Homo sapiens: one gene and its partners. The protein of the gene in region 3 purifies or fractionates together with the protein of the main gene of each other region. This does not show direct contact. Each region holds a gene or a part of one and is shown on either strand. Other genes may lie near its edges. The genes, in order: FKBP14, PECR and POMGNT2.

Region 1 (7,747 bases), on a different chromosome or scaffold from region 3:
CATTTTCATTTGTTTTTTTGTTTTTCTTTTTTTTTTGAAATAGAGTCTTGCTCTGTCACGCAGGCTGGAGTATAGTGGCACGATCTCGGCCCACTACAACTTCCAACTCCCAGGTTCAAGCGATTCACCTGCCTCAGACTCCCTAGTAGCTGGGATTACAGGCACCTGCCACCATGCCTGGCTAATTTTTGTATTTTTAGTAGAGACAGGGTTTCACCAAGTTGGCCAGGCTGGCCTCGAACTCCTGACCTCAGAAGATTTGCCTGCCTTGGCCTCCCAAAGTGCTGGGATTACAGGTGTGAGCCACCATGCCCGGACTCCATTTTCATTTCATTCAGATATTTAAAAATATAAATATTGTTTTCAATTTCCCACAAGATTCACCACAATGAAAATCAGCCTATATTTTCAGTTTTAATTATATCACCTCTCTTCCTTCTGTTTAGACCAGCAATTTCAAATCCTCTCTCCCCCAGCTTTCAAGAAGTACACATATAGTATATATTTATTTTTAAGTTAAAGTGATTTAATGCAGTTGTTAAAAAAAGGGGTGGGGGAGAGATCCATTAATCCATTAAACTCTATGGATTAATGTAGAATGTATTTCTAGGATATATTGTGTGAATAAAGCAAAACGACAAAACAGCATGTATAGTTTGCTTCTTTTTGTGTAAGAAAGGGGGAAATAAGACTATGTATTTGGATTTGCAGAAAGAAACACTGAAAGGATATATTAGAAACTAATAAAACTAAGCCGGGTGCAATGGTGCATGCTTGTACATAGCGAGACCTCATCTCTACAAAAAAAAAAACAGAAAGAAAGAAAAAAGTAATTAATAAAACTGGATGTGGGGATAATAGAATAGAAGAGGATGTAGGTAGGAGAAAGACTTTTAAAAATATGTAAATAATAGGCCGGATGCGGTAGCTCACACCTGTAATCCCAGCACTTTGGGAGGCCAAGGCAGGCGGATCACAAAGTCAGGAGCTTGAAACCATCCTGGCCAACATGGTGAAACCCTGTCTCTATTAAAAATACGACAATTAGCTGGGTATGGTGGCGTGCACCTGTAGTCCCAGCTACCTGGCAGGCCGAGGCAGGAGAATCGCTTGAACCCGGGACACAGAGGCTGCAGTGAGCTGAGATCGCACCACTGCAATCCAGCCTGGCAACAGAGTGAGATTCCGTCTAAAAAAAAAAAAAACAGTAAATAATAGAGATAAAGTCTTCCTATGTTGGCCAGGTTGGTCTTGAAGTCTCAGCCTCAAGCAATCTTCCTGCCTCAGCCTTCCAAAGTGGTAGGATTACAAGTGTGAGCCACCTCACCCAGCTAAGACTTTTAAATAAATATCTTTCTGCTGGGCACAGTGGTTCACGTCTGTAATCCCAGCACTTTGGAAGGCCGAGGTGGGCAGATCACGAGGTCAGGAGTTTGAGACCAGCCTGGCCAATATGGTGAAACCCCATCTCTACTAAAAATACAAAAATCAGCCAGGCATGATGGTGCAGCTACTTGGGAGGCTGAGGCAGAATTGCTTGAACCCAGGAGGCAGAGGTTGCAGTGAGCCGAGATTTTGCCACTGCACTCCAGGCTGGGCAACAGAGCAAGACTCCCTCTCAGGAAATAAATAAATAAATAAATAAATAAATAAATAAATAAATAAATAAATAGATTTTTGTTTTGAACCATGTGACTGTGTTATATATTCAAAATTATTTAATGAAAGGGAATTAAAATTTATCTTGGATGGAAGAAAAAGGCATGTGACTGGTAATACTATGAGGTGTTATAAATTTAGTGGCTGTGGATCATGAACCCCTGGTTCGTAACAATTTGGCTTATTCAAGACTTAATCATTTCCTGGCCATTAGAATGAATTTGATCAAAGCATAGAAAGGGACTTGATATCTGACCAGTCAGGACAGAATGGAGTGTGAGTAGATAAAAAACAGGAATAAATATCTCCCTCCACTTCTTTCCCCGCAGCAGCCAGACTAAGACAGGTATGTGTAGCAATGGCCGAATTATAAGGAGAAGCCTCTTCTTCCTTTCTCTTTACCCAAAGGCTCAGATTTTGATGGGGCTGGAGCCCTGCTGTGTAAAACCCAGGCTGGGGTCTCTTTTCTCTGGGGCAACCTGAACAAAACAGAGCATGTAAGTTGCTTGCTGTTAATTGCCAGGAAAACACTACAAGATGTATTTAACAGCCAGTCTACAGTTTTAACAGAAACTGTCCACATGAGATATTTCTCAGGACAGCTAGCTTCTTATACAGTAACTCCAGATGGAAACTGTCTTGGCAAAATTGTTCTTTCAAAGACCCAAGGGTAAGCATAAGATACAGTGAACCCTAAGCATTGGGAAGAAAAAAGCAAAAGATTGAATGGTGCTTTTTAAGTCTTAATATATTTCTCTCCAAAACAGTGATTCACTATGAAAAAGTCCACTTTCAAAGCATCAGTATTTTAAGAAAACTTATAAATAAATGTTACCTAAATAAAAGTAGATTTGAAATATACACATATTCATTTAAAAAGTGAGTTACAAAAACAAAACAAAACAAAACCCCAAACAACCAAAGAAAAGTAGAAAGAGGAGTAGGAAGAAGGAAAGGTCACCTCATCTTTAGAGAGTTTCCAGTCATCATTAAGATCCATTTCTTGGAATGATTCATGGGATCTTGGTCCATTTCGAATCTCCAGGAGATCAATATTAAATATCAGTGTACTTTCTGGGGGAATTTTACCTGACGTGAGGAAAGAAGGCAGAAAGTTTTAAAAGAGCCAAAAGTTTTAATAATAGAAAATTTATGGTAATGGACAAAGTATTTTTTTTAACTGAATTAAAGAGCCTTCCTAAGATTGTCATATATGATGAAAATTATGTATATTATATTTTACTCGAATAGAATAGAGTAAAAGAAGAAATAATATACACTAGCAGAGCAAAAGCATTCTATCTTTGGCTTAGCAATTAAAATGTAAATACACATACACACAATGCATATACATACATAGAGATGTACCTAATGGCTTAGGTATTACATTTCTAATATAATTAATATATTACATATTATATGTCAAGAAGGACTTGAAGGGTTTTAGATAATTCGGAGTTAAGTATATTAAAAGTAATAAACTAACTTTTTGGTCAGAAAGTCCTGACCTAGAAATACATACAGTATTGCCATTTCTACCACTAGAAGGCATTTCTACCCATATAATTGAGTAAGCTCTGGTGTCACACTGTCTGAGGCTGAAGTTTACATTTGCCCATCTCTAAGCCTCAATTTCCTCATCTATAAAATGCAGATAATAAATTTCCTCCTCAGGAGTCTGTTGGGAGGATAAAGGGAGAAAAATCCATGCAAAATACTTAGCATTAAACTTGACAAATAGTAAACTCTCAATACATGTTATTGAGGTATAATTTTCTCACAGGCTTTAAAAATAATGCAGGAAGGTTTAACAATTTCAGAAAGTTAGGAAACACTACCTCTGATATAGAACATTATATATATGTTGAAGACATTTCATGGGAGGGGAGAAATTAAAATGAATTTCTGAGAAGGGAAATTAAAAATCTTTAAAAGTGAAAAGAGCTTTGTTAAAATCCCAGGAACCTGAAACAAACAAACAAACAAACAAACACACCCATCTGTGGAGTATGGACAATTGTTTTTCTCAAACTTGTTTCCTTATAACTATATTTAACATACAGGTCTGTGTAAACATGTTAAATATTTCTTAGTCATCCTCCCCCCATCCCACATATTTCCATGAAAGAACATTCATAAATTCCAAAGAGAAGACTTATAAAGTGTGCTGAAGCTTACCATTTCAGATCTAGACAGAGATGTGACATGCGCTAGGTTGTTGATAAAACTGGTATCTTTCCAAAAGAGGCATGCAAGCATGTACTAAAAGACTACAAAATTAGTGTTAAATACAGATTAGAAAAATTAGTTTCATGGCATTCAGTTTGAAGGAAATGACTCAAATTTAGATCTCTACTTATTGTGAAGTAAACTTGAGTTAAATATAGTATGAGAAAGAGTAATGGACTAATACAACGTACAGTAGTCCCCACTGGGATATGTCCCAAGAATCCCATTAGATGCCTGAAACCATGGATAGTACCAAACCCCATACATACAATGCTTTTTCCTATACATGCATATCTGTGATAAAGTTTAATTTATAAAATAGTCATAGTAACAGATTAAAAATAATAAAATAGAACAATTACAACAACATATCATAATAAAAGTTATATGAATGCAATCTGTCTCTCATTCTCAAAATACCTTAATATTTTCAGACTGCAGTTGACCACAGGTAACTAAAACGGTAGAAAGTGAAACCACAGGTAAAGGGGAACTACTGTATGTAAATATTAAAGGTGAGACAATAAAGATAAAATGAAAACATTCTCAGCATCAGAAAAAATTTTCTAGATACTTGGTTTTCTTCTCTAAAGAGGATTATGACTAAAAGAAGAATTGAATTTGGTTAGTTAATCTTATCCTATGAACAAGATTTGTATAGATTTGTATATTTTGGAATATATAATGCTTGCCATATGGCATCTATTTTCCTTCTCAGGAAATGGGCTGTGAATCCTGACTCCTCACTTTTGTCAGTGGTTAACCTTAGACTTCAGGATGCTATGAAGTCTATATTTATACTATATCAGAGTAGTTGTCTGTCTGGTTCTGATGACTACTTAAACTTTTTTTTCTTCATTATGTAAGTAATACATGCTCATTGTAGAGCACATACTTGGATGATAAAACCAGAAATAAATATGATTCCCAGTATCACAGTCCATTTTTAACATTCTTATTTATTTCCTTATGATTAACTTTCTATGTATATGTACCTTTTCCTATATTTACTATCATATATACTATAGGTTTATTTTCTACTTTTATATATAATACTGTATCTCATGCATTTCAGATATAATTTTTAAACTCTTTGGAAATGCCATTTTAAATAACTGGGCCATATTTTATTTAGCTAAATTCTTACCAGTATACCACTTACGACAGTTCCAATTTTTTGCTTAGAAACAATGCAATTATGGACATCCCTGTTCACAAATTTTTTTCCTGATATCTAATTATTCCCTTAGGTTTGAAGGAATTATAGAATAAATGCATATAGACATCTTCAGACCTCTTTTTTTTTTTTTGAGATGGAGTTTGGCTCTGTCCCCCAGGCTGGAGTATAGTGGCACGTTCTTGGCTCATTGCAACCTCTGCCTCACATGTTCAAGCAATTCTCCTGCCTCAGCCTCCTAAGTAACTGGGATTATAGGTGCACTCCACTACGTTCAGCTAATTTTGTATTTTTAGTAGAGACAGGGTTTCACCATGTTGGCCACGTCGGTCTCAAACTCCTGACCTCAAGTGATCCACCCTCCTTGGCCTCCCAAAGTGCTGGGATTACAGGTGTGAGCCACCATGCCTGGCCCAGACCTCTTGATATATATCACAAAGCAGCTCTTTGGAAAGTTGCAGGGGTTCTCACTTGAACAGCAGGATATGTGTCTGCCCTGAAAAACTAGTACAAAAGCTGTCCGGACCAGCTAGCCAGCTTGCTTCTGCTTTGTGACACAGGGAGAATTAAATTCATTTCATGTCACTCTATGATTTTTTTTAAATACATTGTTAAAAACTTTATAAATAAATTTAAAAACGGGAATGAAAAGAACTCCCAGTTTGCTGTGGGAGACTTAATATTCATGAAGTACAACCCATATATAACCCACATCTAAAATGCATTCAATACTTTAATAATCTATATTTCACATGTTCAACTCATCCAAACACTTACGTTAATGGATCTTTCTCTCTGCATTGTTAAAGTAAATTGGTGAGTTTCAGTTTGGGAAGATGAGAACATTCTGAAGATGGATAGTGGTGATGGTTCCACAATAACATGAATGTATTTAATGCCACTGAACTGTGTACTTAAAAATGGTTCAAATGAAAAATTTTATGTATATTTTATCACAATTAAAACAACCCACCATATTTGTGAACAGTATTAATAGACCTCAATGTTCTTTTTTTATTGTTAGCATAGTTGCCCATTTAGACATTACGGCCTTAAACTGGCCATTTCAATTGATACTCAAGACATAATACAGTTGCTAAAGGAATACATACCCCCTATTAACTTCCAGGGGAAAAAAAAAAGTTATAGTGACTCTAACTTCTGTCTCCTAATCCAGAGAACAACTCTAGTGCTATAGTAAGAAAAATACAGAAATACTATTACCTTTTCCTTCTTTTCCATAGCCCAGAGCAGGAGGAATGATGAGCTTTCTCTTCTCTCCTACACACATTCCTTTCAAGCCCTGGTCCCAACCTTTGAGAGCCTCCAGGATGCCCAGGGTAAACCAAATGGGCTGACCATTGTTATGTTTGTGACTATGATAGAAATAAAACACATTAGAACTCCTTATTAACTCTAAAAAATTTTCTTTAGTGCATTTTCCCACCAGTAAGTGGTTAAGTTTATTAGTTTAAAAATTTATAAATACAGCAATTCTGTATTTGCACACATACACACACACCTCCAAGTCAAGTTTATAGGAATTCAATTCACTGCCCATCTTTCTTGATGCAAATTTCACATACTTGACTGGGCTTAAGAAAGACAGAGGAAATAATAAAAACAACAACCATTTGAACATTTGTTGTATACCAGGAATTATTCTAAATTTTATTTTATTTTTTGCCTCTTAACCCTTACAATAAGTCTATAATATAAGTACCATTACTACCCCATTGCACAGATGAGGAAACACAGGTTAAGTTCCAGTCTTTAAACCTAACTCCAAAGTTCAAGGTCTTAATCACAAAGTTATGTTGTCCCAGGAAGGCCACTAGGTTGCAGAACAAGGAGAAAATAATGGAAAAATGGCTGAGTTTGGGAAGGAGATTGAAAGGCTAAGGAGAATTTACTGCCAACATATGTGGGTCCATATGCACACAGATATGAAGAGTGAGAAGCACAGTGTCTTATATCCTGCCTACAAACTTGCCTTAGCTATGGCCTGCTGATGGCTCTGACGGGTAGAAAAGGCTGCTTTTCATCCCTAAATCCCCACTCAGACCCTAGCCCAGTTTCCTCCTCAGGGGTCTACAGTGGGGCTATATAGGAAAGTCTGGAAGAGTAGCCCCTCAAGGACTGGTGTGTTAGTCCATTTTCATACTGCTATGAAGAAATATTCAAGACTGGGTAACTTATAAAGAAAAGGAGGTTTAATGGACTCGCGGTTCCACATGGCTGGGGAGGTCTCACAATCATGGCGGAAGGCAAAGGAGGAGCAAAGGCACGTCTTACATGGTAGCAGGCAAGAATGAGTGTGCAGAGGAGCTGCCTTTTATAAAACCATCAGATCTCGTGAGACTTATTTACTATCACAAGGAGAACAGCATGGGAAAAACCTGCCCTCATGATTCGATTACCTCCCACCAGGTCCCTTCCACAACATGTGGGGATTATGGTAGCTACAATTTAAGATGAGAATTGGGTGGGGCCATAGCGGAACCCTATCAACTGGGGACGAGGGAAATAGAATGTCCTGGCTCATGAGTTGAAGAGAGTCTAGCCTAGGAAAACCAACCTGCCGAACTACATACAGGGAGGCTTAAGGGCTGAGTAATGCCTGATCCCTACCTAGCTCCCTTTCAGTGCAATAAGGAAAATATTCTATTCAAGGATATCTTG
Region 2 (7,915 bases), on a different chromosome or scaffold from region 3:
AGCCATTGATTCTGGCATAAAAAAATAAAGAGGAAAAAGTAATTATAAAAATGATTTTTATGGCCAGGCCCGGTGGCTCACAGCACTTTGGGAGGTCAAGGGGGATGGATCATAAGGTCAGGAGTTCAAGACCAGCCTGGCCAACGTGGTAAAACCCCGTCTCTATTAAAAATACTGCTCAGGAGGCTGAGGCAGAGAATTGCTTGAACCTGGGAGGTGGAGGTTGCAGTGAGCCGAGATTGCGCCACTGTACTCCAGCCTGGGCGACAGAGCGAAACTCCATCTCAAAAAAAAAAAAAAAGAAAAAGATTTTTAATATTCTTTCACTGAAGGAAATCCATTTCCAATACAACAAAATAATTGTGTATATATATTTTTAAGTATATGATGTCTTTTTCTCAAAAGACACGCCACCACTTTCATCAGAATCTCAGACAGATTCATGTCTTCCAAAAGATTACAAGACCAATGTCCTAATGTTTTAGTTTGTGGTAAGAAAAATATAGTCTATCACCTTATTCCAGGGGTGTAGTTTTTGGCCAATGCATATTTATGCAACAGGATGAAAGTTCAAATAGCACACTTATGCAACAGGATGAAAGTTCAAATAGCACACTTATGCAACAGGATGAAAGTTCAAATACATAAAAATCTATTAAAAATCCTTCAAAGTGGACTAGGGTCCTACGAATCTGCTGAGAAGCCTAGTATCTGACCTATGCATGAATTGATAACTGATTCTGATTTTCTTACAGATATTCCTGAAAGAGGATAGAGCTTGGTGTTGAGAATAAACTGGGCAGTAATGGTGATGAGGTTACATCATGGCCTTACTAGGAAATGTTTTTGCTTTTTTTTTTTTTTTTAACTAAAAACATAGATTTTTTTTTTTTAGTTCATACTGTGCCAGATGTTGGAAACACAGTCGTAACCAAAGATAATTTAGATGTTCATTAAAAAATATTTAAAAGACGAAGACAATTTTAATTACTCATAATTAACATTATTTTCAGAAAAATGGCTAAAAATCTTATAAACTTCCTTCCAGTCCATTTTTGCATATGTAATACTTTTTTTTTTTTTTGATACTGAGTCTTGCTCTGTCGCCCAGGCTGGAGTGCAGCGGCACGATCTTGGCTCACTGAAACCTCTGCCTCCCGGGTTCACGCCATTCTCCTGCCTCAGCCTCCTGAGTAGCTGGGATTACAGGCACACGCCACCATGCCTGGCTAATTTTTGTATTCTTAGTAGAGACGAGGTTTCACCATGTTTTCCCAGGCTAGTCTCGAACTCTTGACCTTGTGCTCTGCCCGCCTCGGCCTCCCAAAGTGCTGGGATTACAGGCATGAGCCACCGTGCCCGGCCCTGCATGTATATATTTTATTAAAAGTAAAATTGGGCCGGGCACGGTGGCTTACGCCTGTAATCCCAGTACTTTGGGAGGCCGAGGCGGGCGGATCACCTGAGGTCGGGAGTTGGAGACCAGCCTGACCAACATATAGAAACCCCATCTCTACTAAAAATACAAAATTAGCCTAGCAAGGTAGTGCGTGCCTGTAATCCCAACTACTCGGGAGGCTGAGGCAGGAGAATCGCTTGAACCCAGGAGGCGGAGGTTGCAGTGAGCCAAGATGGCGCCACTGCACTCCAGCCTGGGCAACAAGAGCGAAACTCCATCTCAAAAAAAAAAAAAAAGTAAAATTGGAATGCTATTAGGTTTAGAATTCTACTTTTCCCAATAATATGGTATGCATTTCTCCAAGTAAGTCTTCAATAGCAAGATATTTATTTATTTATTGAGATGGAATCTCGCTCTGTTGCCCAGGCTGGAGTGCAGTGGCTTGACGTCAGCTCATTGCAACCTCTGCCTCCCAGGTTCAAGCGATTCTTGCGCCTCAACCTCCCAAGTAGCTGGGACTACAGGTGTACGCCACCATGCCTGGTTTGTATTTTTAGTAGAAATGGAGTTTCACCATGTTGGCCAGGCTGGTCTCAAACTCCTGACCTCAGGTTATCTGCCCGCCTCGGCCTCTCAAAGTGCTGGAATTACAGGCGTGAGCCACTGCGCCAGGACCAATAGCAAGATATTTAAACGGAAGCATTATATTTCATTGTTATTGATTTAACTATTTTCCTTATATTGGATTTTTAGGTAATTTCCATTTTTTCACTACTCAAGACTACATCCTTGCATGAAAATCTTTGCTTGACTCCGTTTCCTTAAATTCCTGAAAAAGGAATTACTGTCATAGAGCATAAACATTGTGAAGGTTTTTGGATCTTTTTTTCCAAATTGCCTTCCAGAAAGTTTGTAATAATTTACATTCCTGCCTTCTCATTCCTGCATCAACACTTTAATTTTTCCCAACATTTCAAAATTTTGTTAGAAAAGTTAAATCTTACTGTTTCATATTTTATTACCAATAAAGTTGATTATTTTTTCATATGTTTCTTGCCTGTCTGTAGTTCTTCTTTTGGAACGCTTAGTCCATACCATTAGTCTAATTTTTCTATCAGTGTGTTGGATTTTTTCTTTATTTGTAAGAGCTCTTTATGTATAAGGCTGTTGGCCGAATCTAGTGGCTCAGCCTGTAATCCCAAAACTTTAGGACTCAGAGGCAAGGCAGGAGGATCCCTTGAACCCAGGTGTTCGAGACCAGCGTAGGCAACAGAGTGAGACCCTATCTCAAAACCAACAAACAATTTATCTTATGTTGCAAATATTTTTCTTCATATGCCTTTAAACTTTATATATTTTTTTAATTCAATGAGGATTTACACTTTCATACAGGTAGATTGATTTATGTTCTCCTTTGTGGTTTATTCCCTCACTTATGTGTTTACAAAGGCCTTCCTTCACCCAAGTTAAGGTAAATATTCAGCATATTTCCTTGCTGTGGTTAAGAGATGTGAGAAGATACTATGAGAGACTCACTATGTTCACAACTTTTTCCAGTTAAATGAAGTCTTCCCACGTTTCCTAATCACTCACATTAAGCATATAGAATGGATTAATTTTAAATCTGAATATAAAACTAATTGCACAGCATGTTTCACTGCTCTTCTTACTGCCTACCTGGGGCACAGTCTCTTTGGCCTGAGTGGTCTCTTCAGTTTTTAACGAGTGGCTCCACAATTCCTTAGGAAGAGCTGCTCTCTTCTGTCTCCCTGGTGGTCGTAATTTCGCCCACACCTGCCCCGTCTTTGCTCTGCAGCTCCACACTCCCTCAGCCCCGCCGAGAGCTCCTGGCTCCCGTCTCCAGGTTACCCCAGGTCACCACAGCCACCTCTCTGCACCAGCGGCCCGCTCACGTACCCAGCTCCAGGAGCTCCTTCACGATGGCTTTTCCGATGCCCGTGGCCCCGCCGGTGACGATGGCCACTTGGCCCTGCAGCAAACCAGGCGCCAGGTAGCTCCTGCCCTTAGCCCAGGAGGCCATCCCTGCAGCGGGGTGCCAGAGCAGCTGAGCGCAGGCCCTTCTGGGTCTCAGGGACATTCGAGGCGGGCGGGCGGACAGGGCGGTGCTCGAGCCCACGTGACCACCAGAACCCCGCACCCTCCCCGGCCCGGCCCCGCCCCGCCCGCCGGCCGCGGCAAAGCCGCATCCTCCCGGAGCAGAACCGCTCCCCGCCGGCTGTCCGCAACCTCCGCCAGCGTCGGTCCCTGGGCAGGTGTGGGTGAGACTGCTCGTTCGTTTCTTTAAATTTCGATGCCATTGGGGAGGGTGGAAGGGAAATGCAAAAAAAAAAAAAGAAGAAGAAAGAAACAAGCAGGGTGTGCTCTATTTCAAAAATTCAATCCTCAGGGCTGAAGCTCTCACGATTAATTAAAATTAAATCTCCAGTGCAGCTGGAAAAAGAAAGGCTGCTGCTCGGCGCCCTCGCTGCGCCCGCCTGCCGGGGTCGGACGTCGGCGATGCTGTGGCTCCAGGTGCTGTGTGCCGCTGGCTGGGAAGGGGAGAAAGGGCAGGCTTAGCTGAGGGGGAGAAATGCGGCTTTCAGATCCTTTCATCCTTCGGGAGGGAGCCCGGGAAAGAGAGTGAAGGGGAAGAGGAGATGCGGTTGCAGTTTTCCACAGAACCAAGAGAATAAACGATTTGAAAAAATAAACTCAGGCCCACCTCCGTCTCACCTCCCACTCCCCACCCAAGAATCAAGGGGAAAGATCATCTTTACCAGGTTTGAGACCTGATCCATTTCAGCTGAGCTGCATAGCGAGTCCAGAAGAGGATCTTTCCTTGAAGGGTGCACGCTTCCTGCAAGATGCATCTGTAGGTGTTTGAGATCATGTCCTGTAGTTCATTCCTTGTGCAGGAGGGTGAGCCCGCTGAGGATGGGGAAAATTTCTCGTCTGTGTTATGGTGCCCAGTAACAGTGATTTATTATTCAGATCTGCTCCTTATTTTTCATCTTGCTTCCCGCTCTGAACCCACCAGAGTGAGATTACACCTGGACTGGCCTACTGAGACTTCACCCTAAGAACTTGGTCGAATGTGCCAGTTGCTGTGGTCTTAACAATCCAGATGGGATGCTATTTCTAAGGCTGTTGTCAGAGTGTTGCATTTTCCCCGGACAGGTATTAAAATAATATAAAGGCAAATAAATGCCATCATCCTTTTGTTGGACCTACCACCTAGGATTCACAAAGCCAATTGGAAATGGGTCTGGTTGACAGAGGAATCAGACCATCACTTCCTCCACCAGGTCCCACCCACCAGCGAGGCTGCAGTTCTTGTTGGACAGCTACACTTCCCTGTTGCTCCATCCTCTTGTCCTTCTCTGATCTCTTTTTAGAATCACTTCTCCCTCTATCTTTGTTGCTGACAGATTCAAATCTACACTCGTTAAAGAAAGGAATAAATCTCCTGGTTACCATTTGCTAGATAGTTTATCCAGGAATCACTTAACTCTACTACTTAAGTCAATTCTGTAGTTAGGACCAAATTTTTAAAATTACAACGCCATCACCTCCTTTAAAACAAAGTAAATTCAAACAGGAAAGCTCAAAGTGTTGTTGCAGAAACATATAACTCCTCTTGGTTTGATCCCAATGACAAGGTGTTTTTTTTTAAGGAAAAGAAATATTGATTCAGTTCTGAGGGGTATCTTATTCAAGAGAAGTCCAGACTTTCTTTCTTGTGGGTGGGGACACTTTAAATTCTTTTAAATGATAACTTTATTGAAGATATAACTTAACATGATTTATGCCCTGGTCTGGACCTATAGATTCTTAGAGGTGTGCCAGGGTGGGTCAGTGGGAAGCTGGCTGTGCTGCAGCTTCCGTGTGGCTGCTGAGCGGACTGAGAGTGGGATTCTGATGTCTTCCAGTGAAACAGGGACTGGGGCCTGCAAACCGGTTATGCCTACTGAGGATGACAAGGTGCCATTCCTCAGCTGCAAGGAAGTTGCAGGATGAACAGTCAGAAGGCGATTTTTCATGATCCAGGCAGAACCTGCAATTAAGAGAGCTTTGGGGTCTCTTCAAGCGATCTTTTGTTTAAAATTAGGAGGCATGATCTCTTTGCCTCTGCCTCTGACCTCTGTCAGGGTTTGAAAGTCCACTAATCCGCTAAGTTCCAGGCCAAAAGGCCTGGAAGCAGAGCAATAGATCTGCTGCTTGGAAGCTCTTTGTTTTGAAATTTTAGTTCTGCCTCTGGTTGAGGCATCTCTTCCGAAGGCAACCACGCCATGCTGCACTGACCACTCCTTTGGTTGAATCAAATGCTGCTCTTCCCTGTGCTCTGCGTCACTGCCCTCTTTGTCCTGGGGAAAAAGGCATTCCTGTGGCCAAGGTCCTCCCACACCCCCGAACCTCTCCCCACAGCTCTGTCATACCCCATTAGCAATGACTGCCTTCAGCTTCCCACCCCTCCCCCACCCCATCTGCCTGGTAACTTTATTTTCTCCCCTCTGCAAAGCAGCTGCTAGCTCAGACTGACAGGGGCTTGTGGGATTCTCGACATTTAGACTCCCAGAATCTCAGTGCTGAGAGAATGTCAGTGAAGCATCTGGTCCTGCCCCTACCTTGAAGCAAAACTACCTAGCAATTGTGCCATAACAAGGCATATAAAGGAGCTTATTGATGTCTTTTTATTAAACTTCTCCTTAGTCTCAGGCTTTCACAAAAAATAAGCTACTCCTGAGTTGCTACCACTTCACCCAGTCACTTAAAAAGATTTATCGAGCATCTATTTGTTGGCCTACTTCTATGGTACCACTTCATAGGGCTTGAAGTCTAGTAGAAGAGCTATGCAATAAATAAGTAAAAGAAAAATAAATAATGACAAATGTTGGTAAGCCTTACACAGGAAACAAGCTGTTGTGATAAAGAATAATGAGAGGCAGAGCAGGGAGTCAAGTTTTTAGTTCGGGTGTCAAGAAGGGCTCAGAGGAGGAAACATTTGAACAAGGACTCAAAAAAACAAAAACGGGCACAGGAAGAGGCGGGGTGGAGCAGCAGAGCAGCAAGATAGACAGCAGTTAAGAAGACCTCAAGCATTTGGAAGCATTTGGTGCTCTTGAGGAAGAAATACACAGCCAGTGTGATTGGAGCATAGTACCCCTACTATGGTGGTACAGATGGGGTGGCAGGATGGGGAGGTCCTTAGGCCACATGGACTTCCACATGTATAACAGTAGGAAGTTACAGGAGGATTTTAAGCAGAAAACAGCCTGATTTTCTTTTTTATTTTTATTTATTTATTTGACATGGAGTCTGGCTCTGTATCCCAGGCTGGAGTGCAGTGGCAGCGATCTCGGCTCACTGCAGCCTCTGCCTCCCAGGTTCAAACAATTCTCCTGCCTCAGCCTTCCGAGAAGCTGAGACGACAGGTGCGCGCTGCCACGCCTGACCATCTGATTTTCTTTATGTTTTAAAAAGATGTTTCTGGCTGGGTGGCTCATGCCTGGAATCCCAGCACTTTGGGAGGTGAAACCCCATCTCTACTAAAAATACAAAAATTAGCCGGGTGTGGTGGCACACGCCTGTAATCTCATCTACTCGGTAGGAGAATCAGGTGGGGGAGGTGGGGGTTGCAGGAAGCTGAGATTGTGCCACTGCAGTCCAGCCTGGGTGACAGAGTGAGACTCTGTCTCAAAAAATTAAAAAAATTAAGTAAAAGATGTTGCTTACTGCTGAGTGAGGAATTGATTGGAAGGCAGCAAGAGTGGAAGCTGGAAGATAGGAGCATTTTTTTTAGAACCACAGTTAAGAGACAGTGGCCTCCTAGACCAGAGGGGAAGCAGTGGAGATGGGAAAGTTGGGTGGATGAATTTAAGAATTATCTGGGCCGGGAGCAGTGGCTCACGCCTGTAATCCCAGCACTTTGGGAGGCCAAGGCGGGCGGATCACCTGAGGTTGGGAGTTCGAGACCAGCCTGACCAACATGGAGAAACCCCTTCTCTACTAAAAAATACAAAATTAACTGGGCATGGTTGTGCATGCCTGTAATCCCAGCTTCTCAGAAGGCTGAGGCAGGAGAATCGCTTAAACCCAGGAGGCAGAAGTTGTGGTGAGCTGAGATCACGCCATTGCACTCCAGCCAAGGCAACAAGAGTGAAACTCCATCTCAAAAAAAAAAAACAAAAACAAAAAAAGAATTATCTGGATAATTTTTTTCAAGAGTGGCTTAAAAGCAGTTATTCTAAGCACGAGTTCCAGAGTATGAGCATGTTCTTAAAAACCTGTTTTCCCTCCTACAATGACCAAGAGTACAGAGCTAATGGTTGATTGAAGCTAACACTCTGTAATATCACATTTGTAAGAATCTTTTTTTTTTTCTGAGGCAGAGTCTCACTCTGTTGCCCCGGCTGGAGTGCGGTGGTGTGATCTTGGCTCACTGCAACCTCTGCCTCCCGGGTTCAAGCGATTCTCCTACCTCAGCCTCCGGAGTAGCTGAGATTACAGGTGTGTGCC
Region 3 (7,747 bases):
GCAGGCTGGGTGGGATCTGGGAAGCTTGTGTATGAGAAGAAATGCCTTCGTTTAGCTCCTGGGAAATGTTCTGGGGCTGCATAATTCTCTGAGCCTTATCTTTGCTTTGTGAGGGAGAGCAGCCCTTGAGCTGTGGATAAGGGAGGAGAAGGAGCCCTGGACTGAGAGCCAACATTCTGCCATTTTAATCCTGGCTGCCTGTGAGAGCTCACACTGCCTCTCCAGACCTCTTTTATGAAATAAAGAGTTGGAGGAAATCATTTCTAAGGGTTCTTGTAGCTCTAAAGGGCAGTGGTTTTGTAATTCTAAATTGATGGCCTAACCCTCTCAGCACAGTACCAGGGCACATGGGATAAATTATCACACTAGTATGTTACTTAGACTCTCCTTAGGGTGAGAGAATGGCCACAGCTCCCTAAGCCACCTGTCACAGCTGGGTACCCTCTGCCTGGCTGGGTGGGGAGGAATTACAGCAAGAAGCCTTGGGTTGCTAAGTTACAGTCCAGGGCCTGTGGTTCTACATTTCCAGGGCCACCACACCTGCTCTGCCCTTGACTAATAAAAACTCACTGCTCTACAGTCTACTCTGCTTATCTGCCATTGAGTGTTCCTCCAAGTCTGATGACAGATGAGCACGGTACTAAGAACAAGACCTTAGTGAGAGGCAGGTTCAAATCCTGGTGGCCCTTCTTGAGCTTTAAGACCTTAAGCAAGGTACTTAACTCCACTAAAACTTGGTTTTCTCATGTTAAAAGAAAATGGGGATAATATTGGTACTGCATTGGAGGGTGAGGCTTAAATGAAATAGGTCAGGAAAAAGGCTTAAGACAGCGCCTCTCGCATAGTAGGTGCTCAGTAAAGTAAGATGGTGAGACCATTCATCTTTATCCCCTACCCAGAGGCCAACATCCTTTTTTTCTTAGTTAACCTGGACAAGTCCTTTTGTTTTCTCTGGCTTCCCATGTCTGCACTGGTACATACTCCAGCACCTCTAAGAGAATCAGATCTTTCACTCTGCCAGTGGTGACTGCCATTGGTACAAGCTTATGCTACAAATTTATCTGTTTTCTCCATTCTGAAAAGGCTAAGAGAAGGCCCCTTCTTTGCTGTGTAGTTGCTCCTCAGCCCTGAGCTAAGCCTTAGGAAGGGACTGGGGACCTGGTCTGCTGTATTGCCACACCCAGTGATGAAACACACCCCGGGGTCCTTTGACAGTGGAGGTTTGTGGCAGGAATCATGGCACATCCTGGAGTGGCATCTGGAGTTGCCACAGTTGTGCTGGGTCCCAGAGCTTCCAAGAGAGTCACACAGTAGCCATTGTAAGGAACTGGAGATGCTGTCCAAATTTGCTCTGTTCAGGGGCTTCTTTCTCGGGGGACCTACCTCCTCTCTGCTGGCCTGCAGGGATGGCCATCTCCCTATGTCCTCTACTGGTGGCTGCTTTAGACCCAGACTCCATCCTTAGTCCATTTAGCTGTGGCCAAGAGACCTGGACTCGTTTCTTGCCACTCCCACACCACAAATGGTGCACTTTGTGTGGGAAGGAATGGGTTGGGGCAACTTGTCTCAAAAGGGAGCTTAGAGTCTGGCGGACTTCTCAGATTGTCCCAGAGCTTAGGCTTATGCATCATCTTAGCAAAAGGTAGGAACAGAATTTATTTAGCCTTTACTGATACTTATGGGGAGGGTTATTCTCAATTGAATTAGTTGTTTAACCTGGGCTAGATAGAAATGCCTTGCTGAGTATCGCAAAATTGTGAAATGTTAGAAGAACCTCAGAGCAGTTCCCCTCAGTATTGTGCACACGCAAGAATCACCTGGAAGCTTTATTAAGACACAAGTTCCTGGGTCCTCATCTCAGAGAGATTCTGGTTCTGCAGGTCTGAAGTGGGGCCCAGGATTCTGCATTTCTCAGATCCCAGGTGATACTGCTACAACAGGTCCACGGATCCACTGAGTCCTGCTTTGGAAGACACCATGGCCAGCCCTATCCCCGCTGTGGAGTAGTCCACATGGGTTGTTTTTGTTTTTTGCTAGACCACTTCCAGGCAGGGGCTCACTGCCCTACAAAGTAGCTGATTCCTCCATGCTCAAACAGCTCTAGTCTTTAGGAAAGTCTTCCTCCAACTGACCATGCTGAGCTCCACCTCCCCATGACTTCTTTTTGCAGTTCTTACTCTAGGTCCCTGAGCAGCTGGCACAGCTGTGCTGGGCAGGACAGAATGGGAATCATATGTGCCCATAGTCCACACTTGTGCCTAGGGCTTGGGTTGCACGTGTCACCATCATGCATGTGTGTCCAGTCAGGTAGAAGGGGTTGCATCCACTCCTCAGGAGCAGCCTCACTCTTGTGCAGCAACTCAGGTATTTGAAGACACCATGGGTGCAGGGGCTTCTTTTCTCCAGTAAAGTGGCCCTACTCCTTCTAGCATCCTACACAGTATAGGGGTTCTCAGTCCTTCCTCATCCTGGCTGCCCCAAGGTGAGTGTCCCAGAAAGACTCACATAGGGTGGGGTTGTATTAATGACTAATTGTACAGACTCTAATTCCTCACGAAAATGCATAACCTGAACCTAATCATGAGAAAACATCAGACATTGAGGAATATACTAGAAAATAGCTGGCCCTGACTCTTAAAAATTGTCAAGATCATAAGTTGAAGATAGACTGAGAAGCTACCCCAGATCGGAAGGGACTAGAGAGCGGTGATAACTGGATACCATGCTTCATCCTGGACTGGATTCTGGACCAGAAAATAGAAACCATATGTTAATAATAATATCATTGTCATTATAGTATCAATATTCATTTCGTTAATTTTTGTGGTGTGAGAGAATGTTTTCATTCTTAGAAAATACATGCTAAAGTATTGAGTGCTAAAGGGGCCTGATTTCTTCAACTTATTTACAAATGATTCAGAAAAGAGAGAGAATTTGTATACAGTTGCCCTCCTCAGGGAGACTTGTTCCGGGATCCCCCACAGATACCAGAATCCAAGGATGCTCAAGTGCCTGTTATAAAATGGTGTCATTATTTGCATATAACCTACACAATCCTCCTGTATACTTTAAGTCATCTCTAAATTCTTTATAATACCTAATACAATGTAAATGCTATGTAAATAGTTGTTATACTATATTGTTTTTAAATTGATACTTTTTTTGTATTTTTAAGTTTTTTTTGAATATTTTTGATCCACAGTTGGTTGAAGTCACATATGCAGAACCTGCAGATATAGAGGGCTGACTGCATATAGAGAGAATGATTAAACAAAGATGTCAAATTAGCAGTTGGTGAATCTGGGTAAGAGTGTAGGAGAGTTCTTTGTCCTATACATGCAACTTTTTTTGTAAATTTAAAATTATTTCCAGATAAAAAGAAGGAGATCGCAGACCCTGTAGCCAGCCTACCTGGGTTAGTCTTATCATTGCTTCCTCTGTAAACTTGGCTTTCTAACCTTTCTGAGCTTTGATTTTTACCATCTATAAAATAAAGATTATCATTGCAAAGTGAAGAATCTGGCACCTAGTGATTGGCCAGTAGATCTTAGCTATGATAATATCATTATTATTAGGAAAGGGAGGAGTTGAGGGTGACATGGTGGTAATGAGACCAAAGGAAAACTCAGCCTAATTCTGTCACCTCCTTCTGCTTGCTGATGTGGGATCTCAGGGTCCCTGGGTATCTGGCAGGGACCTGGCTGCCATAAAGCGTCACCCTGCAGAAGGCTTTGCAAGTAGTCACCTGAGCCCATAGGGCTCTACTGTTGAAACCCAGGTCTCCTGGCAGCTTTATCTCCTGCCTTCCCTGGCACTTCTGTGCCTGCCCCACAGCCTGGGCTCCCCGACCTTTACCTGTCTGGGTATGCAGTGCCCACTGAACTGCACATGGCTTTGGGCCTGGCCATCACTGCCCATGGCTTGGAGGCCTCATGGTTTGCTGGACATTTGTGAGAACTAGACAGTGATGCTTGCTGCAGACAGATTTGTAGCAGTCATGAGTAATTGGGACATGTAGACACATAACAGAGATGCTCATCTTATCCTCCATCACCACCAAAACACCTCCAAAAACTTGCTCAAAACTCACCCACCCTCCAGCCAGCTTCCCTGGATGATCTCTTGTTGTGCACACTTCCTCGTGTTTCTTTGTGAATGTTTTATGCTTCCTATACTGGGTGTTTTTGGCTCTCTTGATCAGTTCAACCCTCTCAAATTGGGCCTGAGGGTCCATCTGGATTTGTGTACACACTGGGGTCTGAGCATTCCCTGTAAGAATTGTTTTCATTTGATTTTGTAGTTCCACCTAGAAAACCTGGTGTAGGCGTGTTCTCCATTACCTTTGTGAGCCACACAACAGAGGTTCCCACCGTTCTGTTCCCTGTTTCATCCCCGTTTATGACCACACTGGTACACAGTGATGCCAGAGAGGACCAATACAGGCACATGTCACTTCCAGGTGACCCATTTGTGCTAAGCAAAAGCCAGATGACACGGCAGGCTGTGTGGCAAGCAAAGGTTTCTGCGTTATTTGGAGGCTGAAAACCGGTGAGAGGGTTGCATATGAGCTGGTGGAAGGCCGAACGTCCTGCCCCACACTCAAGCCTTGGTTTATCCTCAGCAAAGACTGACATCACCCTTCTCACCAAAGTAGTACAGACTTGAATTCTGTTGGAGTTTTTCCTGCTTTGAAGGGGTTCCTTTTCTATTGATAAGGCAATATAGTCACAGTCATCAGCTATTGATGGTGGATTAATGTCTCCAGCTTTGACTTTGCTTTGCTCTTTATTCTAAAGCAAGAAGATACTACCCATGTCAAAGTTTTAATCTAAGAAAGTGAGCCCTTAACTAAATGTTAAATATGCCTTGATAATTAAATGTGTTAAGTTTTACAAGAACCACTCAGACTGCCAAGATTTTGCCAAAGGATAAATACCTTGGTCAGAAAACCTGATCTATAAATGCCGAATTTATCAATAGCATTAGGTTAATATTTAATTTAGGAGCAAATGTAAGCATTATGTTATTAATACCAGTTCCATATACTACTTCAGATAACCAAAAAAAAAGGAGGGGGAAAGAGATCATTCTGAGGATAAGCTTGAGTTAGTGAAACATGTTTACTCCTTACTAATTTACAACATGTAAGACAACAAATCAATACAGGACTGAAAGCTTCCACAATCTAGCACTAGTACTTCAGGCTGCATTTAGGACAAAAACACTTTTCAGTGACAAAATAAGATTTCTATAATTTTCAATTGGAAGTGTGAACAATCCTTAAAAGTCAAATTGCTGTGAAAGTAAAATATAAAACCTTCTGCACCGTTGCTGACCCCCTCCTGGCCTGGGCCCTGCCTGATCTTCTGCAGCCTGGGTCTGGCAGGTGCTGGCTGTCTGGTCCCTCCACCTCTGTAACCCTTCTTGTGGAGGAGTGACCGGTGAGCTGCTGGTTCTGGCAGTCACAAAACTGGGAACCCGGGCACAGGCCATGGTGAGGCCAGCAGGACAGGGGATTTGCTTTAGACCAGAGCTTGCAAATGAGCATCCGTTTTTAACTGGCAACCATGAGGCCAGCAGCCCCAGGCCTTGGTGCACGTTGTCTTCACTCAATTTGAATAATTGCCAGAAGTTACAAATGAGGACATTTCACATTTTAAATAGATTTTTGCTTCTCTGGGAAAATCAGAAGAGTATTGCTATGGACTGAATCATGTTCCCCCCATTTATATGTTGAAGATCTAACCCCCCTGTGATTGTGTTTAGAGATAGATCATCCTAATAATGAAGCTTAAATGAGGTCATAAGGGTGGGGCCCTAATCTGATAGGACTGGTGTCCTTATAAGAAGAGGAAAAGAGATCAGAGTGTTTCTCTCTCTCCCCACCTCCCTCTCCCGGCTTCCTTTCTCCCTCCCTTTCCCCCTTGCTCACCTGCCCCTCTCCTCCCTCCCCACCACACAGAGAAGAGGCCATCTACAAGCCAGGAAGAGAAGCCTCACCAGAAACCAACCCTGACAGATCTGTGAGAAAATTCTGTCATTTAAGGCACTCAGTCTGGTATTCTGTTATGGGAGCCCAAGCAGACTGATACAGATAGGTACCACCAGGCTGCTTTCCCGCCATTCTCTCATCAGCTGGCATTAGGTGTTCTGTCTCCAGGTCACACAGCCCACCCTCAGCTTTACTTTCTCCATTGGCTCCGGCCCTAGCAGGCATGTGAGTGTGCACCTCCTACTCTGGGCCCAGAATTCCTGGAGCTTTTACTCCTTATCAAACCTTAAAGCCCTTATGGGCTTTTCTGTGCCCGTGTCTGGGGCTGGCCAGGGCCCCCAGAAGTACAGCCTGCACCCAGCACCAATGACCACCCTCACGTGGTGAGCTCCCCAAGGCAAGTGGCCCCACCCCACCTGCCCAGCTGTTACTGGGGTCTGCAGTTGCAACAGCATTTTTGACATTATCCTCTGATGCTCGGAACAGCTGGGATCCTAGAAAGGAGGATTCACTAAGTCTGGGGATCTGATAACATTTAACTGCTCTTGGGAGCTTAGTAAAGTGGTTTGGGGGAGTGAATTGGTAGCTTCCTCCTGTCTGCCTCAGTTTCTAAAGGGATTTTCTAGGCATGTTTTTAATCTCTTGTTGATTTCTTTTTTCTCTTTCTTTTGAAAAAATTTTTGTTTTATCATGCTTTGTCCTGGCTGAGCCACTAAGCCCTTTGTTCCCCACTCCAGTTGGTCTCTAAATTTGGTGCCCAATATAGAGGAGGCAGAGGCAGATAAACATGGTGGTGTTGAAGTACCCTGGTCTGTGTGGCCCTGGAATGCCAAGAAGGTGAGGTCCAAATGGTGCCTGGGCTATTAACATAAGACAGTGCTTAGAATCCATGTTCAGATCCTGCCTCCATTCTGTACATGCTGAGGGACTTGGACACATTTACTTAGCTTCTCCCAGCCTCTGTGTCCCAATCTATAAAATGGAGTAATAGAAATAGTGTTAGCCTCTTAATGTTGGTTTGAAGATTGAATGAGAAAATATACCTACAGTGTTCAGTATACTGCCTGGAACATAAAGTGTTAGAGGCTGGTGATTTTGAGTGTGTTTTTCAAGGTAAGAGTGGGTTCATATTTAATAGTTGTTGGTAATCTGGGAATCAGTTTCAGGTGCCGATTGGATCCTTGGTAGCAGGATGGGATGGGAGGTACAGCACGGGAATCAGCTGCTGGTCCCAGAGCAGTGGAGGGGCCAAAACTCCGCTTAGGGCACGAGTAAGAGGAGTGATAGGAAGAGGCAGCTTTTCCTAGTTTGATTACCTCCGCTTTTCTAAAGGAAAGCAAACAAATAAGGATCAAGGTTGTTGGGTCCCCTTTGAATCCCTTTTGTCTCCTTCAAGAGTTTCACCACTGAGCACTGTGATCACATCCACCCAGCATTCACTCATCTTCCCTTCTCCCTGCCCCATAGCCTGATGACTTTCAGCTGGTCAGCCAGTGGCATTCTCTGGTCATTGTCATGGGTCCAGGAGGGGACTGGGCTGCAAAGTAGGGTGGGATGTGCGTGCCCTTATTTGGGCTCGCTCCTCCCTGATTGAGTTCTCTGAATGTCTGAGGTGTTTCTTTCTCTTCTCTGCCCCTTGCCCCACTTTAATGAAGACTGGATCTTCTGTATCTTGAGGGTGGTTTTCAACACAGTCTTTAGAGTCCAAGAACACTAGGTTAAGACCTAAGCTTCACACCTGTTGTAACCTTGGGC

The links.
Region 1: the proteins of POMGNT2 (region 3) and FKBP14 purify together in Homo sapiens (affinity purification with mass spectrometry; 2 studies listed by BioGRID and IntAct, with this or other methods). This does not show direct contact.
Region 2: the proteins of POMGNT2 (region 3) and PECR purify together in Homo sapiens (affinity purification with mass spectrometry; 2 studies listed by BioGRID and IntAct, with this or other methods). This does not show direct contact.

The regions. Positions count from the first base shown.
Region 1 is NC_000007.14:30,016,376-30,024,122, forward strand, and holds part of FKBP14 (peptidyl-prolyl cis-trans isomerase FKBP14 precursor), read right to left. Parts: intron 6,442-7,747; coding exon 6,290-6,441; intron 3,930-6,289; exon of another isoform or gene 3,838-3,929; intron 2,749-3,837; coding exon 2,621-2,748; intron 1-2,620. UniProt on the Homo sapiens protein: PPIase which accelerates the folding of proteins during protein synthesis. Has a preference for substrates containing 4-hydroxylproline modifications, including type III collagen. May also target type VI and type X collagens.
Region 2 is NC_000002.12:216,078,302-216,086,216, forward strand, and holds the start of PECR (peroxisomal trans-2-enoyl-CoA reductase), read right to left. Parts: upstream 3,509-7,915; 5' UTR 3,498-3,508; coding exon of another isoform or gene 3,441-3,497; coding exon 3,317-3,440; intron 1-3,316. UniProt on the Homo sapiens protein: Participates in chain elongation of fatty acids. Catalyzes the reduction of trans-2-enoyl-CoAs of varying chain lengths from 6:1 to 16:1, having maximum activity with 10:1 CoA. Has no 2,4-dienoyl-CoA reductase activity.
Region 3 is NC_000003.12:43,095,679-43,103,425, reverse strand, and holds part of POMGNT2 (protein O-linked-mannose beta-1,4-N-acetylglucosaminyltransferase 2), read left to right. Parts: intron 1-7,747. UniProt on the Homo sapiens protein: O-linked mannose beta-1,4-N-acetylglucosaminyltransferase that transfers UDP-N-acetyl-D-glucosamine to the 4-position of the mannose to generate N-acetyl-D-glucosamine-beta-1,4-O-D-mannosylprotein.